Linked DNA regions of Homo sapiens. The protein of the gene in region 2 interacts with the protein of the main gene of each other region in a pairwise test. Each region holds a gene or a part of one and is shown on either strand. Other genes may lie near its edges. The genes, in order: DYSF and SLC12A6.

Region 1 (3,814 bases), on a different chromosome or scaffold from region 2:
TGTTGATGGCAGAGCAGAGAAGGTCCCTTTGTCTTAACAGCAGTTGCAAATCCAGAGGAAGGGAGGAGCTGGGGCTGGGAGAGCATCTCAGGGTCCACCTGAGGCACTCAATAGAGTGTGTCCTGCCTCCTGCAGCAGGTGGGCATAGGGAAGCTGTCGGGGAGCGGGAGGCTGGCCCAGGAGCCCTTACTTGGCTCGGTGCCCATTTGGGTTTCCTTTCACTTGGTAAGAAGCCAATTGATGAGCTTGTGGGGCCATACCAGAGGTGGCTGTCGTGCCCTTGCTCTGTGGGGCCCTGCCTGGGGGAGGAAGGTCCCTGCCTGTGCTTCCCCAGCCCGCACAGCTCATCAGGGAACCCGGATCACCAGGGAGCCTCCCCCAGTGTCTCTGATACTTTAGACCTTGAAGGGGTTGCAGCATTCTCAGGCTGACACCTGATTTCTAATGCTCTTTAAAATTTAAAAGAAATCTTTTTAATATGAAAACTCCAACCCTATATAAAAGTGGAGAGAATGGTGTAATCCACCCCTTGAGGACCTTATGTTGGTGGCAAAGACGCAAACACCCAGAGAAGGAAAGGGCCTGGCCGTAGGCTGCACAGTATTCCATGCACACTCCCAATCCAGGGCTCACTGTGATTCCCACTTCAGGCCTCAGTCCTGGTCAGCACCAGGCCACTGGCCCAGAGCATTGATCCCATGGCAGACAGGCTGCTTGGGGAACTGCCCCCAGGTGAGCTCTTTGCTCTGTGAGTCCTCCAGGAGGAGGAAAGGGCAAGAGCCCCTCCATCCCACTGCAGCTGGCTATGCCCATGTCTGCAGAATGCATCTCAGAGAGGAAGAGAGTTATAACCACACAGCTTTCCATGCAGTTCTAACAGCTGAACTGAGAGGAGCTGGGGAAAGGATGTCTGGTTTGGATGTCCGGACCAGCTACCATCTGGGCCATAGTGACTAAGGAGAGTCTAGAACCAGGGTGGTGAAGGGTCTGCCTACAGGCCAGGCCTGCTAAGCTGGCTGTGGTCACCTGAGGCGCAATGGAGAAATGTTTCTGAGGTTCTGAGGTTTGTCCATCAGCAAAATCTGACTGTGGTCCAGGGTAGATCTAGGTTGCAGGGACTCGAGGTGTGTACGATGTGGGAGGCCTCTTTAAGCCAAGGGAGACGAGATTACAAATATAAGCTGAGATACAGGACTGTGGAAGAGTGTGTGCACGTGTGGTGTCCTGCAGCATGAGCTGTTGCTGTGACCTGAGATCCGGGGTCAGGCCCCAGGACTTCTGCCTGGTGTCTCCTGCCCAGGGGGCACCCTTCCCAGCCTGCCTCAAGCTCCTCCTCCCATTCGGAGCCCAGCTGGCCAGTGTTCAGTTAGCCACAGAGACTCTAAGCACGTGTGTGCGTCTGGGAGGTAAGGGCGTGTTTTGGGGATGAGGGAGAAGAGGATGAGGCCTCATGCCACTGGGGAGTGCTCACTTCCCTGGGGAGACATTGAAACCAGAGAGTAAGGAAAAGTACTGTGGATGATCAAATGCTCTTTTGGGAGGCTCAGGCCGTGGGAGTTTAGGAAGAGAAGAGCTGCTGCAGACCCTCGCCCTTGGTGTAGTCGGAGGACTAGCAGCAGTAGCACCAGGGAACTCACTAGAAACTCAGAGTCCCCGGCCGGCCCCGGCCTGCTGAGGGGGAATCTGCATGTAGGCACATGATGGTTGGAGAAACCCTGTTGGATGTGACAGAGCTCTGTCGCTGGAGTCAGGATTATGGACTCTTCCTGTGACCTTGGCAAATCCCTCCTGCTCACATGAGGAAGGGGCTGCACTAGGTTAGCTCTGGCCTTCTGTGGCTGGGACTGTGCTTAGGGGAGCACTGTCATCTTCCCTGGCTGCTGTATATTAAGCCAAGCCTCCTTCTGAAAAGCCAAGGGGAGGGGAAAGGCAGGTCCAAAGTGGCATCACCACCACCCATGACATGCCTAAGCCCAGCCCCTGCCAGCTGCACCCTGCACTGCTAGGCTACTGGGCAGCAGATCTAGGCCTCCAGGGGCCTGGGGAAGGAGGCCCTGCTGCCTGGCTGGGAGAGGAAGGAAAGATTTCCAGTCACTTCCAGCCTGTGGTCCTTCCTCATCGCTGTGGGCAGAAGCAGAGTGGTACTGTGGGGGGCCTGGTCAGAGCTCCTCCCTGTCTCCTGTCCCCCCAGCAGCGGGCCACTCTCCTTTGAGTTCTTCTGGAAGTTGTCCTCTTTAAAATATGGACCCTGCTTCCCCTCTCCCAGGGCTGGTGTGGGGATGTCAGATCCTAGGTAAGGGGTCTAGGGATGAAGGGGGTGGCCTGGGCCTGAGGCTGCAGACTGGCTTTGCTCACAGGTCTTTGCTACAAGCTGAGCACATCCTGCCTCCTTCCACCCAAGTCACTCATTCATTTGGCCAGTACCAGATGATGAGGGCCGGGCCCTGGTGACCCTCACCTGGCTTTCAGGCCATGGGACAGAGGCTGCCTGCCCCAAGCCAGGGCCTAGTGGAGAGGGGCCCAAGGACAGGGCAGCTTCCTCCAGTTGGCCTAATCCCCTACCCTCTTGGAAATTCCCTTGGGAGGGGTATGAGGGGGCAGCCTGTCTGATTCCTCTCAGCTTCCCCCTCAGAGCCAGCCGGGAGCAGGGCCAGCGTGGGGAGGCAGGAGGCGTTTGGCGGGGAAGGAGGGCCGGCTCTGTTTCCAGAGTTGGCTTTCCCCAGCCGGCGCTGGGGAACATACTGTCCCAATTAGGAGCCCTGTATTGTGTTGTATGTGTTTTCATGGTTTTTGGGGGGAGAAGTGGGGAGGGGAGGATACTGTCAATCCTGCAGCAGGCAGGGCTCAATCAAGGGTGCCCTGTCTCTAGTGCTGGGCTGTGCCGTGGGTCATCCACGACAGCCCATCCCCAACTCTCTCTCTGCTTTCTGGACAGGGGTGTGATGACCCGTAAGCCCTGGGCTGCCATGTGGGGGAGGACCCTGGGCCCCACCTTCAGCACCTGTCTGATGGAAGAGGCCAGGTCCAGGGTGCTCAGAGTCCTCTGGGCAGTCAGCTGGAACCTGGAAATGGGCCTGGCTTGATGGGGGAGAAGACAGAGCAATTTGGGCAGCTTTGGCCCCCAGGTGGGAGGGTGCGGGTGGAGTTTCGGAGGGTATGGGTTTGCCTGATGGGCTGGAGCACTAGGCAGGGCGGAGTGTTGAGCCCCACATGGTATGGATGGCAAGTGGTGAGGGCGAGGCGTGGGCAGGTGGTTGAAGAGCCACGAGCGTCCTCTCCCAGCCTCTTGCCTGTTGGCAGCTTAGCCCCATCCTCTGAGCCCCAGGTCTGGGACAGCTGCTCTGGCTGTGCCTGCCCCAGTGGGATCACCATGGGTCCCTGTCTCCTCCCTCCCTCCAGAACTATGCTGCCATGAAGCTGGTGAAGCCCTTCAGCTGAGGACTCTCCTGCCCTGTAGAAGGGGCCGTGGGGTCCCCTCCAGCATGGGACTGGCCTGCCTCCTCCGCCCAGCTCGGCGAGCTCCTCCAGACCTCCTAGGCCTGATTGTCCTGCCAGGGTGGGCAGACAGACAGATGGACCGGCCCACACTCCCAGAGTTGCTAACATGGAGCTCTGAGATCACCCCACTTCCATCATTTCCTTCTCCCCCAACCCAACGCTTTTTTGGATCAGCTCAGACATATTTCAGTATAAAACAGTTGGAACCACACAGCAGTGTCAGTGTGTGTATCTCTACAGTACCTGAACAGGGAGTGACTGTGAAGGGGGATATGCCTGGGTGGGCGGGGAGGGTGGACGGGGTATGGGTGCTGCT
Region 2 (3,814 bases):
AGGCTGCAGTGCAACTTCCGCCTCCCAGGTTCTCATGCCTCAGCCACCTGAGTAGCTGAGATTATAAGCATGCACCGCAACACCTGGCTAAGTTTTCATATTTTTAGTAGAGACGGGGTTTCACCATGTTGGCCAGGCTGGTCTCGAACGCCTGGCCTCAAGTGATCCGCCCGCCTTGGCCTCCCAAAGTGCTGAGATTACAGGCGTGAGCCACCGCGCCCAGCCTAGAGGCATTTTTTGAAAAGCTCTCTAGATCATTCATTATGCAGCCAGATGAAGTAGCACTACTCTCGTACATACATTAATATGCCTTTATCAGAGTACGTTTTTAATTTGTCTCTTGTTTTTAAGTCTACAAGATCTTCAACTCAATGTATATTTATGGTGTACAAGTTATATGTGATATCACATATTACACTAGGTGTAAATGATTTTGTATCCTTGTCCTCAAGAACCCTACAGCATAGTTGAGAAAGATAATATGTAAATAAAAACAAAATATAGTGATATAGGTATTATAGCAATATAGGGACAAAAAGAGCCTGGTTTATTATATCTGGATATGGGGTTCAATCAGAAAAGGTTTCAGAGAGGACATGACTCCTTAAAGAAAGGACTTATCTAAATTACTTTTATGTCTCTAACATCTCTCACAAAAACTTGGTTAACAGCCAGTCTCAAAGTTGTTACACTTAGACCTCAACTCTCCACTTCAGAAACCCACTCCAAGGCTACACACTAGATCACATTACATGAGAAATGCTCTACCTCTGAAATTGCTCACTCCAACAACATTCAACCGTCTGACCACAGTCTTTAATCTTTCTACACTTTTCACCACACTTTACCTTATCAAGTCCTCCAGTCTCTTAAGTGTCTCTATTTTATCTTAGTTGATCATTTTCCTTTGCCGTATTTTTGCATATTTCTATTGTTGGACTTATACAGCATTATAATTTATATACAAATGTGTTTGCTTTGTCTATTAGATCATAACTTTCCTTAGAACAGATTAACGGATGCTTTTTCTCTGTCTTTAACACCCAACATCTTTAACAGCCAGCCAGTGCCTTATCCTTAACTCATTGCTCAGAGTAACAAATATTTGGTGAAGGAATAAGTAAAGTGCTCTAGTCATTTTCACCATTATACCATGAGATCTGCAAAGGTAGAAACTATATGTTACCTGTATATTTCCTACAATTAATACCAGACTGCCTCATACATACCAGCGTCTCAGGGAGTATCTGTTGACTTATAAAAGGTTGAAATGTATTAGGGACTGCAGGCAGGGTGTATGGTTCACACCTGTAATCCCTGAGCTTTAGGAGGCCGAGGCAGGAGGATCATTTGAGGTCAGGAGTTTGAGACCAGCCTGGCCAACATGGTGAAACCCCATCTCTCCTAAAACACAAAATTTAGCCGGGTGTGGTTGCAGATGCCTGTAATCCCAGCTACTTGGGAGGCTGAGGCTGGAGAATCACTTGGACCAGGGAGGTGGAGGTTGCAGTGAGCCGAGATAGCGCCACTGCACTCCAGCCTGGGCGACAGCGCGAGACTTTGCCTCAAAAAAAAAAAAAGAAAAAGAAAAAAAGTATTAGGTCCTGCAAATGACATATAAAAATATGTTTTATAGCCACATGGTTATAAAGCACATGTAAAAAATGTTCATCATAGCAGAGGCAAAATGATGCAAGAAAGAGCACTAGATAAAAGTCAGGAGGCCTGAACTTCAGTCTTGGCTTTGCCACTTTGTGATCTACAAATAACCATCTCTATAAGCCTTAGTTTCCTCATTTATTTTGTTATTTTTTTAGTCTAATCTATTGGGGTTTTAAGTCTCCTCACTTATTAAAATGTGGTTTGATCAGAATAAGATTCTAGATCATTAGCTCTAACATGTGGTGCTTTTCAAAAAAATTACTATAAAAGTGATACACTATAAATACTTAAAAGTTGTATATGCCCTTAATTGTTTTGGTAAAAGAAAATTCCACTCTATTTTTTTTTCTTTTTCTTTTTTTTTTTTTTTGAGACAGAGTCTCGCTCTGTCACCCAGGCTGGAGTGCAGCGGCGTGATCTCAGCTCACTGCAACCTCCGCCTCCTGGATTCAAGCAATTCTCCTGTCAAGGCCTCCCGAGCAGCTGGGATTACAGGCGCACGCCGTCACGCCTGGCTAATTTTTTGTATTTTTAGTAGAGACAGGGTTTCACCGTGTTCCCCAGGCTGGTCTCGGACTCCTGAGCTCAGGGAATCCACCCGCCTCGGCCTCCCAAAGTGCTAGGATTACAGGCGTGAGCCACCGTGCCTGGCTCCACTCTATTTTTGTAACTCACTTTCCAGAGGCATCCACTCTCAACAGTTTCTTTTGTATCTTTAAGGCGTTCTTCATACATAAGCTAATACACTGCTAAGATTCTTGATTTTACCAACTGGACAGTCCTATAAATTCAAATGGAGCCTTGCCAAAATGAAAGAAAAATTACTTTGATAGCAGAAAGAAAACTACTCAGAAAGCCAACAGCAGAAAAAATTAAAATATACTGAAATAAGTATTTAAAACTTCATGTAGGGCTGGGCGCTGTGGCTCACGCCTGTAATCCCAGCACTTTGGGAGGCCAAGGTGGGTGTATCTCCTGAGGTCAGGAGTTTGAGACCAGGTTGACTAACATGATGAAACCCCATCTCTACTAAATACAAAAAATTAGCCAGGTGTGGTGGTGCATGCCTGTAATCTCAGCTACTTGGGAGGCTGAGGCAAAAGAATCACTGGAACCCGGGAGACAGAGATTGCAGTGAGTGGAGATTGCGCCCTTGTACCCCAGCCTGGGCAACAAGTGTGAAACTCCATCTCAAAAAAAAAAAAAACAAAAAAAACTTCATGTGTCACCTCCTGTTTGTGTGATGTAATGTGAGTAGAAGACATATGACAAGAAACTTCGGGTGGGAAGTTTCTCTACAGGAAGAAACGTGGGAGGCATGGGGGAAAGGAGAATCATACTAATGTCACAACCACAGAAGGATGTACAAAGGGTGAAAAAATTCAGAGAACTGTAAATACTAAAATAGCAAACTAACTGTGAAATGCACTATGAGCTTAAGGAGAGTCAACTGTAGAAAGGATGCAGTTGTTATCTATATTAAAGCCAGCCTAGAGGGAAGTGTATATTAACATTAGGCCCTTTTCTTCACAACAGCACCCTTTGAAGATCTACATCTAAATCTAACAAGGGCTTTCACATACTGAGAAGTCAAGGGTGAAATAATTGTGTTTCTAAGTGGTTTCTTCTAATGGTGGGGAAAATTTATCACATGATGACAGTCATCATAAGAATTTTTTTAAATATAGAAAGAAAAAAAAAGAGAAAAGGTAGGTCACTGAGAAAGTATAAAGTTCCACGAGAATAGGGCAAAGTCCTCTCTAATGGCCAGACTATTAATTTCCCTTTCATCTGGGTACCGGAGAATATTTAAACATTAAGTAAGGAATGTGTTATATAGAGAACCAAGCTTTTAACATCTGTAACCACGTAAACAAACATAAATTTCACTTAGATATGTCCCCATTTTTACCCCTGTAGTCCCATTTTTACCCCTATAGTGTAAAAGGATACCACTTTAGACTGTAAAGAATGCTTAAGGGTAACGTAAGAACCGCAGACTGGACAAGGAACCTGTTCTGCTGGTCTAACACATTACTAAGTCCACTTTTCCAAAGAATAAAAATACAATTCTGTAACATGTAAGTCACAAGTCTAACAAACTAAACTATAAATTACCTAATGATAATTACAATATTAAGAAATTAACACT

What was found.
Region 1: the proteins of SLC12A6 (region 2) and DYSF interact in a two-hybrid assay, tested with the Homo sapiens proteins (one large-scale study listed by BioGRID and IntAct).

Annotation. Positions count from the first base shown.
Region 1 is NC_000002.12:71,683,055-71,686,868, forward strand, and holds the end of DYSF (dysferlin), read left to right. Parts: intron 1-3,399; coding exon 3,400-3,438; 3' UTR 3,439-3,709; downstream 3,710-3,814. UniProt on the Homo sapiens protein: Key calcium ion sensor involved in the Ca(2+)-triggered synaptic vesicle-plasma membrane fusion.
Region 2 is NC_000015.10:34,331,216-34,335,029, forward strand, and holds part of SLC12A6 (solute carrier family 12 member 6), read right to left. Parts: intron 1-3,814.